Linked DNA regions of Homo sapiens: region 2 is linked to region 1. A link means that fine-mapping ties the variant in region 1 to the plasma level of a protein whose gene starts in the linked region. Region 1 holds a variant in brackets. A gene starts in the other region. All regions are shown on their forward strands.

Region 1 (5,384 bases):
TACATGTGCAGAACTCTATTCAGAATTTTTGTTAGTTTCAATTAAATATATTTTCTTTGTTTTACACTGAAAATTCTCTTCCTGACCTGCCTCTTAATAAAGGTAGCATTTATTTGTTTTTTGTTTGTTTGTTTTATTTTATTTTGAGACGGAGTCTTGCTCTGTTGCCAGGCTGGAGTGCAGTGGCACGATCTTGGCTCACTGCAACCTCCGCCTTTCAGGTTCAAGTGATTCTCCTGCCTCAGCCTCCCGAGTAGCTGGGACTACAGGCGCACGCCACCATGCCCAGCTGTTTTTGTACTTTTAGTAGAGATGGGGGTTTCACCATTTGGGCCAGGATGGTCTTGATCTCTTGACCTTGTGATCCACCCACCTCAGCTTCCCAAAGTGCTGGGATTACAGGTGTGAGCCACCGCGCCTGGCCTTTTTATTTTATTTTTTTGAGACACAGTCTTGCTCTGTTGCCCAGGCTGGAGTGCAATGGCACAATCTCAGCTTGCTGCTCACTAAGGCGGAGGCCTCCCGGGTTCCATCAATTCTCCTGCCTCAGCCTCCCAAGTAGCTGAGATTATAGGCACCCACCACAACACCTGGCTAATTTTTTGTATTTAGTAGAGACGGGGTTTCACCATGTTGGTCAGGCTGGTCTCGAACTCCTGACCTCAGGTGATTCACCCAACTCGGCCTCCCAAAGTGCTGGGATTACTGGCGTGAGCCACTGCACCCAGCCCATTCATTTATTTAATAAATATGTTATAAAAATATAGTTTCCGGTTGTGCTGTATGTAAAAAATACAAAATGAATGCAACACAAACCCTGTTTTCAAGCAGCTAAAAATTTATTCCTTGGGAAAAACAGAATAGGGAGAAATTCCATGGAGAATCAATGAAAGTTTCAAAGACTGAGCTCTGAAGTGGGTCTAGGTGAAGAGACCATTTTTATTCACTTTTTTTCTAAGTGACTACAAGCTCATTCACCTAGTTAAAAGGAAATTTTATGATTTTTGTGGCAATTTGTGTAAGCATTAGAACTTTCTGAGCATCTAGAAAGAAGAGGCAAATAATTTTAATTCCTTGATTTGGTAGTTAATTACACAAGAGTGTCTATCTTGCTTTGAAGGGGCAGAAGTATTGCTAGCTATGTATCGGAGTTTGGTCAGAGTAAAATCTCCACAAATGATATAAGAGATTTATTATTGGAATTAGATATTATTTAATTAAGGGAGCTGTTTAAGTAGTCTGTTTTATTGCGTCACTGCTTCTGGTGGTAGGCTTTAAGTGAGCAGGGCTGGCAGTTAGCACGTGAGGTTAGCGGGGAGTAAAAGACACACTAGAATCCACGAAGACAAAAGATGAAACACGTCTCTTCTCTGCACATCCGGTTTGATGATGTGAGCGATCTGCAGAAAAGTTGGTGGATTCCACCATGGACCTGCACAGGAACCTGGTCCAGAATTTGGAAGAGCTGAAGGAAGGTCCTGTGATTCCTGGAGGAGCTGTGGGCACAGTTGCTGCCCTTACCTACATGTTGAGCCACTGGATGTGTAACAATATATGTGTACACTAAGCTCAAGGAGTTTTTGACGATTACATAGCAAAGTTACCAAGATATATGACATTTTATTACCCCAGAAAGATTCTGAGTACGCCTTCAGAATTCATTGTTCCCTTCATCAAAAGCAGTTATTTTTCTGATTTCTTTTTACCATAGATTAGTTTTGCCTGTTCTCAAACTTAAAAAGGTAATGAAATAGCATGTACTCTTTTATCTGGAATTTTTCTCTCAGCATAGTATTTTTGAAGTTTATTCATAGTGTGTGTCTCAAAAGTTTGCTCCTTTTTATTGGGTCAGGTGTAAAAGTGGTATTTTTGCTTTTGGCTTAACTCCCATTGTCTGGACAAGAACATTTACTTAGAAGTGCATGAATAAGGCTTGAGGCCACTGTATTATTCCTGGAAGAGCTGCCTCCTTAGAGATAACTTTCAGTGATAGAAAGTTATCAGTGATAACTTTCAGTGATAGGAAGTTATCAGTGATAACTTTCAGTGATAGGAAGTTATCAGTGATAACTTTCATTGATAGGAAGTTATCAGTGATAACTTTCAGTGATAGGAAGTTATCAGTGATAACTTTCAGTGATAGGAAGTTATCAGTGATAACTTTGGGTTACAAAATCTTTTCAACCCTGTGAGGCCCAAATTGCTGAATTCTCAGTAGGCTTGGATTTCAACACACAGAGAGCATTCCTGAGCAGAGCTGTGTTCTTCCATCTCAGCATCCAAATCCCTCAGATCTTTCCTGAGCTTTCTCTCATTAACATACACTAACATGTTACAATTTTCTTCTAGTTATCCTAGAGTTATGTAAATGTTGTTAGTATATAGTCTCTCTTCCACGATATCATAAACAATGATTTTATTAAATGTTTTGGCATGGCACAGTAAGAATCACTGACTATATTAGAGTTCTCCAGAGAAAAAGAGTGGAGATATACATGTATACACACACACACACACACACACACACACACACGCATATATATATACACACACATATATATGTATGCACATATATACATATAT[G/A]TGTGTGTGTGTGTGTGTGTGTGTGTATATCTGCTTTGACTCCTTCCTACTAGTTGCAATGCAGATTAAACAGCAAGAACTGGGATAACCACCCTGGATTGTGAGGTTGAAGATTGGGCCTGGATCCCTGATGATTCTGGAGTCTGGCCATCTACTAATTACCTGGACAACCTTGGGAAGCCATCATAGTACAAACATAGATGATTACATAAACCTAGATGATACAGCCTACTACTACACACCTAGGCTATATGGTATAGCCTGTTGCTCCTAGGCTATAAACCTGTACAACAAGTTACTGTACTGAATACTGTAGGCAGTTGTAACACAGTGGTATTTGTGTATCTAAACATACCAAAATGGAAAAGGTACAGTAAAAATATGCTATAAAAGATAAAAAAATTGTACACCTGTATAAGGAGCTTGCCATGAAGGGAGCTTGCAGGACTGGAAGTTGCTCTGGGTGAGTCAGTGAGTGAGTGGTGAGTGAATGTGAAGGCCTAGGATATTCCTGTACACTACTGTAGCGTTTATAAACTCTGTACACTTAGGCTACACTAAATTTATAAAATAATATTTTTCTTTCTTCTGTAATAAATTAACCTTAGCTTACTGTAACTTTTTTACTTTATAAAGTTTTAAAGTTTTTAATAACTTTTTGACATTTCTAATACTAAGCTTAAAACAAACATTGTACAGCTGTACAAAAATATTTTCTTTCTTTATATCCTTATTCTATAAGTTTTTTTCTATTTTTAAATTTAATTTTTTGTTGTTGTTGTTGTTAAACTTTTTTGTTAAAAACTAAGATGCAAACACATACTTTAGCCTAGGCCTGCACAGGGTCAAGATCATCAATATCACTGTCTTCCACCTCCATGTCTTATCCCACTGGAAGGTCTTCAGGGGAAGTGGCATGTGTGGAACTGTCATCTATGATAACAGTACCTTCTTCTGGTAACCTCCTGTAGGATCTGTCTGAAGCTGTTTTACAGTTACCTTTTTTTTTTTTAAGAAGGAGGACCTGCTTAAATAATGATAAAAAGTATAGTAAATACTAGATGATAGGAATTTTTCAGCTGCATTATAATCTCATGGGACCACTGTCTGCCTGTCTTTCTATCGAGAGAGAGAGAGAGATTTAAGGAACTGGCTTATACAGCTATGAAGGCTAAGTCCCAAATTTGCTGGATGTGCTAGAGCCTGGAGACCCAGGGAAGAGTCAACATCGCAGGTCAAGTGCAAAGGCCATCTGCTGGAGAATTCCATCTTGTTCCAGGGAGGTCAGTCTTTTGTTCTATTCAGTTCTTCAACTGACTGAAGCCCACCCACATTATGGAGGGCCATCTGCTTTACTCAGTCTAACAATTCAGATGTTACTGTCATCTAAAAACACCCTCACAGACACACCCAGAATAATACTTGACCAAATATCTGAATATCATGGTTCAGCCAAGTTGAACATAAATTATCTAGCCATCATACTGGCTTTCTAACCTGTAGTGTTTGTGACCTTGCCCTCTGTTACTTGTTTATTAAGGCAGTTCTTCACTTAGATTCTGCTACAACAACTCCACGTGGTACCAAATTCAGTATTAGTTAAGACAGTTTTTCTTCTAATATAACGGAGAGAGAAAGAGACTCAAAATAATAGGGACTTAAATAAGAATCTGAGTAGGCTTCCCAGAGTTGTCTAGGTAATCAGTAGATGGCCAGACTCCAGAATCATCAGGGATCCAGGCCTAATCTTCAACCTCACAATCCAGGGTGGCTATCCCAGTTCTTGCTGTTTAATCTGCATTGCAACTAGTAGGAAGGAGTCAAAGCATAATTCAACATTACTTCCACTCACATCTCATGGATCAGACGTAGTCATATGGTTATGGTTATTACAAGGCAGTTTAGGAAATTAGCCTTGGCTGTGCCCAATTAAAAATCCCATTACTATGGAAGGAAATGAGAACAGATACTGAAGAGTAACTAGAGGTGTCTGCTACAAGTTGGAAATTCCTTGATCAGGTAATGCTGGAAGATGTGAAGAGAATAACAAAACTCTTTTTTTTTTGAGACGGAGTCTTGCTCTGTGGCCCGGGCTGGAGTGCAGTGGCACAATCTCGGCTCACTGCAAGTTCTGCCTCCCGGGTTCATGCCATTCTCCTGCCTCAGCCTCCCAAGTAGCTGGGACTACAGGGACCCGCCACCATGCCCGGCTAATTTTTTGTATTTTTAGTAGAGACAGGGTTTCACTGTGTTAGCCAGGATGGTCTCAATCTCCTGACCTCATGATCCGCCCACCTCAGCCTCCCAAAGTGCTGGGATTACAGGTGTGAGCCACCGCACCCGGCCCAAGAATAACCAAACTCTTAAGCAAGAAAGCCAGTTTGAAAGATTTTACAATAATCAAGAAGTAGTTGACATAGCCCTTACGTAATGAATGGCAGGGGATAACTGCCATTAAAAGTATGAGCTATAGAACTATATTGCCTGGATTTTAATCCTGGTTTGGACATTTCCAGAGAAATTTTGTACAAATAACTGTCTTGCCTTAGTTTTCTCATCTGCAAAGTAAGAATAATAATTCATGCCTCAGAACTTAATTGAAAGATTGAATGAGGTAACATATAACACACTTAACGTCAGGTAAAAAAGGAAATGAAGGATAAAGTTCTAGGGCAGACTGATATTTAAGGGATATGAAAAAGAGGAAAGGCAGATGGGGAGGCGGAGGCTAAAGGGGGACTTCAGAGAAATAGAAGATGAACAAAGAAAAAATAGCTTCCAGGAAGCCACATCAGAAGAAA
Region 2 (5,384 bases), not on the chromosome of region 1:
GGGTTGTGAGACACCTGTGGCCTTGTCAAAGCACTCAAACCGCATTCTCAGGAGGCTGTTTTCAGCGTTCCTTATCACACACTCCACTCCTTGTCCTGTTTTCAGGGTCAAGGAATTATATTCTCATGCACAAATAACATACACACAGTGCCTCAGCATTTTTCCATGCCCCAACCTCAAATGCCTTGTACATAAGTTTGAGTATGTGGCTGTGCGCCCCCCACACTTTTCTGGCCCAGGTTGTTTTGGTCAGGCATTGGGGAAACATCAACCCAACGTGTAAAAAACATTAAAAGAGCAATTTAAATCTTTTCTGAATTCTCTTGACAAAGACCAAAGGGAATCCATTCATGACACCCTGTAGAACTTCTTAAAATAGTCTTTCCTGAATTCTCTTAAAATCTTACACACACTGCAATGTGTGTGCCCCTTTTATAACTTCCCACAACTCTTCCCCCAGATTGGGCATTGCTGACTTTTATATTTCTACTCTTCCTTCCTCACCTCCTGATCTCTTCCTTTAACTACCATCTGCCCATTTCTTTGTGTTTTGTTGTTATTTGTTTTTTTGAAACAGGTTCTTGCTTTGTTGCCTACACTGGAGTGCAGTGGTGCAATTACAGCTCACTGAAGCCTTGATCTCCTGGACTCAGGTGATCCTCCTGTCTCAGCCTCCCAAGTATCTAGGACTACAGGCACATGCCACCATGCCTGTCTAATATATATAAAATTTTATTTTTTATAGAGATGAGGTCTTGCTATGCTGGTCTTGAACTCCTGTGCTCAAGCCATCCACCTGCCTCGGCCTCCCAAAGTGTTGAGATTACAGGTGTGAACCACTATGCCCAGCTTGCCCATTCCATTGTAAAGCAATGAAGCCAGTCTGAGAACAACAGTTTCACCTGATCTATTACCCCAGTTCTCCAGGAAACGATCTGGCATAGATCCAACTATCTTTTAATGTTCAAAGGAATAGAAGAGCCTGCTAACGCTCATTTATTAATTCGCCTAATTTTGGATACAAATAGTAAAATATATAAGCCTGTAATCTTTATTTACTCTTGTGGTGTAAATATTCACCCATCAGGAGCCCCAGGAGGACCCTGTCCTGGAGCTGAGGGTAAGCCCTGAAGAATATGCAGGCTTGGAAGGGGAGCAGAGGGAGGCAGGAAGGTGGTGAAGGGGGAGGTGTTGGGGAGAGGAGGAGGGAGGCAGAGAGAAGAGGAGAAATTCCTCTGTCTCTGTCTCTCTCTGATTCACTCTGTCAGTGTCTCCTCTGTCTGTCTTTTGTCTCCATCTCTGTCTCTGATGCTCTTGCTCATCCTGTGGGGAGAGAGGGCTGAGGAGGGAAGAGTGGGATTGGGGCGGGGGACAATGGCAGTGCCAGGTGGAGACTTGTCCTTCAGAGTCCCCAGACACCCCTTCCTAAGCATCTCTATCTCTCTGCATCTATCTCTGATTCTGCCTCTCCCCCAAGACCCACCATATTACTCTCTTTCTCTCTCTCAATCACTCTCTGTTTCTTTCTTTAATCTCTAATTCTAAAATCCAAAAACCTTTGAGACAAAGTTTTCTTCTAATTCATTTGACAGAAAAAACCTGACCCAAACTTTGTGATGCTATTTATTGTCTCTATAGAGCCCACTTAGTGTGAATATTTTTGTATTTTTATATTTTATGGAGAAATATTAGTAAGACAATAGTATAAGTGATATGGTTTCTAAAGTCCTATAGTTCTGAATCTGAAGTAAGCCATTAAGATGAAGAATTACTTGCAATTATTTCCTGTAATACATGTTCTATTTTATGTCCATATTTATGTAGGGCTAAACTAGATTTTCCTTCCTTTTTAAAATAATTTATTGTACAAACATTCTGTATATAAATCTATAAAAGATACTGAAGAACATGCATTCCTCAAGAAGTAGAACATGGGGTATGTAAATAAAAATTATTCAAAGCTTAGGATTAGCAAAAAGAGATCACTGGAGTAAATGCTCAATGGATTCCTGGGCATTTTCTAGCAGGCCCTCTGGAGATGATCTCTGACTGACTTTATTTAAAGTTCTTTTAGAACTCTTTAAGCATAGAGGTTAATTTGCAGTAAATTTATAGGAATGCAAATGACTCTTATCTGAGAACAATGCAAATGATTCCTGGTTATAGTAGAGCAAATATATTTTGTCCATTTTGTTTTAATTACTTTCCACCAGGTAGAAAAGCTAATTGCAAATATTACAGTTTGTTACTCTGTAGGATATTAACCAGTTTTGTATCTATTGGAAAGGTCACTTCAGAATGCTTTTGACTGACTGACTATATGCATTCCTATTCCTCAAATTCTTCTTTGAACCAGTTGTAGCATCTGAATGTTTCCTCATTAATTAATGAGTTGAATTAAATCTTTGATATATATTCATCTTATATTTACTTGTGTCATATTTTTAACTTTTTGAAAATCATGTCTTAGAGGGTGCTTACACTATAGGAATTTGCATATTAGTTAAGAAAAGATAAGACATAAAAAATCATAAGGCAGCATGTGATAAATGGCAAGTGATCATATGGATTTTGGGGGCTGTGGTAGAGTTTCTGGATGACAGTTTTTTTCATTTATTTCTGCATTACTTTCATTCATTTAACAGACAACTGCTTTGCAATATGAAGCACCGTGGAAGGGAATACAAATACAAATCAGACACAAACCCTGTCCTGGAGTTAGCAGTTTCCTGTGGGAATAAAGGGGAGGAAAAAAACACCTTTCCTCTACCATATTGTATTCAGTGGCTGGGACCTGCAAATTAGACTAAGACAGATTAACAGGAGAGAAAATTCTATTTATACATGTAACTTGAGTACATGTGGGAAAACTCAGTGATAAGTAATTCAAAAAGTTGGTTAGAATTGGGGCTTATACATCATCTTAATAGGTGAAGGTGGGGAGAAGAAAGGCACTTACAAGAAAACAGATTATTGGCCGGGTGCGGTGGCTCATGCCTATAATCCCAGCACTTTGGGAGGCCAAGGCGGGTGGATCATTTGAGGTCAGGAGTTCAAGACCAGTTTGGCCAACATGGTGAAACCCCATCTCTACTAAAAATACAAAAATTAGCCAGGCGTGGTAGCGCATGCCTGTAATCTCAGCTACTCGGGAGACTGAGGCACAAGAATGGCCTGAACCTGGCAGGTGGAGGTTGCAGTGAGCCAAGATCATGCCAAGACACCATCTCAAACAAAAAAGAAAACAGATTATTTTTTGGAAAGGCAAGTGGGTTTTCAGGGGAAAAGTAGGAAATTAGAAAGTTTTGTGATAATGTTTGTGTATATAAGTACGAGTGTTCTTTCTGTCTCCTTCAAGGCCATGAAATTTCTCTGGAGAAGGAATTTGAAATATGTTTTACTCATGCTCTCCCCTCCAGGATAGACCTACCCTGAAAAGGAATTTATGGCAACCTTATCTCCAAGGTTGCTGCCTTTAGTCAGATAAGGAAAGCCCCCAAAATCTCTGTTCCTTTCCATATCACTGAATCTCAAATATCTTCAGCTTAAAAGAATCTTAACGCCAAATATTTGGGGGTGGCATATCCTGATTCCTTTCAGGAGAAAGACATAGATTAATCATCACAAACAGTAGTAATGGATGGAGAAGAGAAGAACATTTGCAACCTTACTGTGTCCTTAATGCTTTATTATTCTATTAAAACCTGAAATTTTGTAGGAATTTTTCCCCAGTTTCATAATTACAGCACAGAGAACCAACCAAGGGTTATAGTAGTCACAAGCAAGATGATATGGGATCCCTCAAAACAATTTTACATGCCTTAATTCCTGAGACCAAAGCATTCTCCTCACCTCTCTCTTTACTCATTTGGTTAACTCTGGACTCAGGCCAAATCCTGTCCCTGGAAGAGCCACAAAGTAGGAAGCCTGGGTACAGGCCTGGCAAGCGAGAACAATGTGTCACTGCAGGACTTTGGAGCTCTCAGCTTTGGAGTCAGTTAAGACCAGTTCCTTGCTGGGAAGCCCTAACTCTGGAGGGACAGAGACAGGTAAGGTTAGTTTACTTCCTTGAGCTTTCGTCTTCAGTGCTGCTTACAGCCTTAGGATATCTGGTATTCAGGAAAGGAGGATGAGGTAGCATTCAAAATTGTGTTCTACCTGGGCAAGAACCAGGGATTGACAGCCCGTTCTCTTTCCCCAGTGCTGGCCAGAGTTACAGAAGTTGGACTGTAAACATTGGCAACTATTGACAGAAGTCAAGGTCATGGCAAGACCATTTGGCCCATGTTTGTTGGGGAAGGATAAGCCTGCGTTTCAAAAAGACTGGTCAACTGGATTTGCATTCCCAGAAACCAGGAAATTTCTGAAACTGAGTTTTAAACCTGGCAACTCTTTTACCATCCCTTTGTATTTTTGCAGTTCCTCCCTATACCAGCTTCCTTACAGCTGTTCTGATTTCCTGTCGTAAGATTTTTTCTTTTCATTTTCTCCAGGGAGGGTAAATCAATATAACCTCTTCTCTAGAGAGGAGGTGGTTAGGTTGGTCTTAAGCAGTGTTAGAAGATCTATTTTTTTTCAAACCAGGTGTCTGAGCTGGGTGAATTCCAGCCTGGGGAGAGGACTTTGATCACCAGATGTTTTTTTGGTGTGCGTGCTGTCTTATGGTTGCGTGGCGAGTTTCTGCTTCAGATGGTACGTATGCTTTCCTTCAACTCAGCTTACAGGCATTTGGTGTCCTTTTGCGGTGTTTTGAGGAACTCTGTCTAGGGCTTTAAGGAAGTTTACATTTATAATATCTTTATTCTTCTATTGAAAAATCTCAAATTGGCCTAATGCTCTGCACTCAATAGGAGCTTAGTGTACATTTAATGATAACCCTGATCTCTGAAGTGGGTGGTTACTGTTTTTTTACTTTCCCTTTCTGTTCTGGGAGCAAAAAGAGTACCAATTTCAAAATCCTGGGAGGTCTTACTTGTTATAAACTCCAGGATCGCTATTTGTGTAGGGGACTATTTGTTTAGAAGTGGACAACTTGTGGTTGAATTTGAGTAAAATTCCTGTTATACTTTTGAAAATAAAACTTCGGAATTCCGGCCGGGCGCAGCGGCTCAAGCCTGTAATCCCGGCACTTTGAGAGGCCGAGGTGGGCGGATCACGAGGTCAAGAGATCGAGACCATCCTGGCTAAGACAGTGAAACCCCGTCTCTGCTGAAAATACAAAAAATTAGCTGGGCGTGGTGGCGGGTGCCTGTAGTCCCGGCTACTTGGGAGTAGAATACAGAGTACTTGGGAAGAGCACAGGAATCAGGATCAATAATCCAGCAAAAAGACATGAGAATGGGGAAATCTAATAAGGGTTCTCTGACAGCACATGATATGCCAAG

Which allele goes with the higher level. Positions count from the first base shown, and alleles are read on the strand shown. Strength reflects both the effect of a copy and how common the allele is.
For the plasma level of the protein whose gene starts at base 3,963 in region 2, allele A in region 1 goes with a higher level than allele G (weak association).

Evidence for each region. PIP is the chance, under the fine-mapping model, that this variant and not a neighbour inherited with it causes the effect. Protein levels are from antibody-based Olink assays in UK Biobank. Linkage for the fine-mapping came from a reference panel and not from the study's own genotypes, which makes the PIPs less certain.
Region 2: C4BPB starts here. The variant in region 1 is fine-mapped to the plasma level of the C4BPB protein (UK Biobank, PIP 0.92).

What each region holds. Positions count from the first base shown.
Region 1 is chr3:94,108,235-94,113,618 of GRCh38, forward strand. All of the region lies in intron 5 of NSUN3 (NOP2/Sun RNA methyltransferase 3), which reads left to right. Among named protein-coding and RNA genes, the nearest start is that of NSUN3, 48 kb to the left of the region's middle. The variant G/A (reference allele first, on the strand shown) is at 2,584.
Region 2 is chr1:207,084,898-207,090,281 of GRCh38, forward strand. It overlaps C4BPB (complement component 4 binding protein beta), which reads left to right and starts at 3,963. Exons shown (of 7, transcript NM_001017365.3): 1 at 3,963-4,049; 2 at 4,585-4,692. The coding sequence starts at 4,635. RefSeq lists an enhancer at 56-265.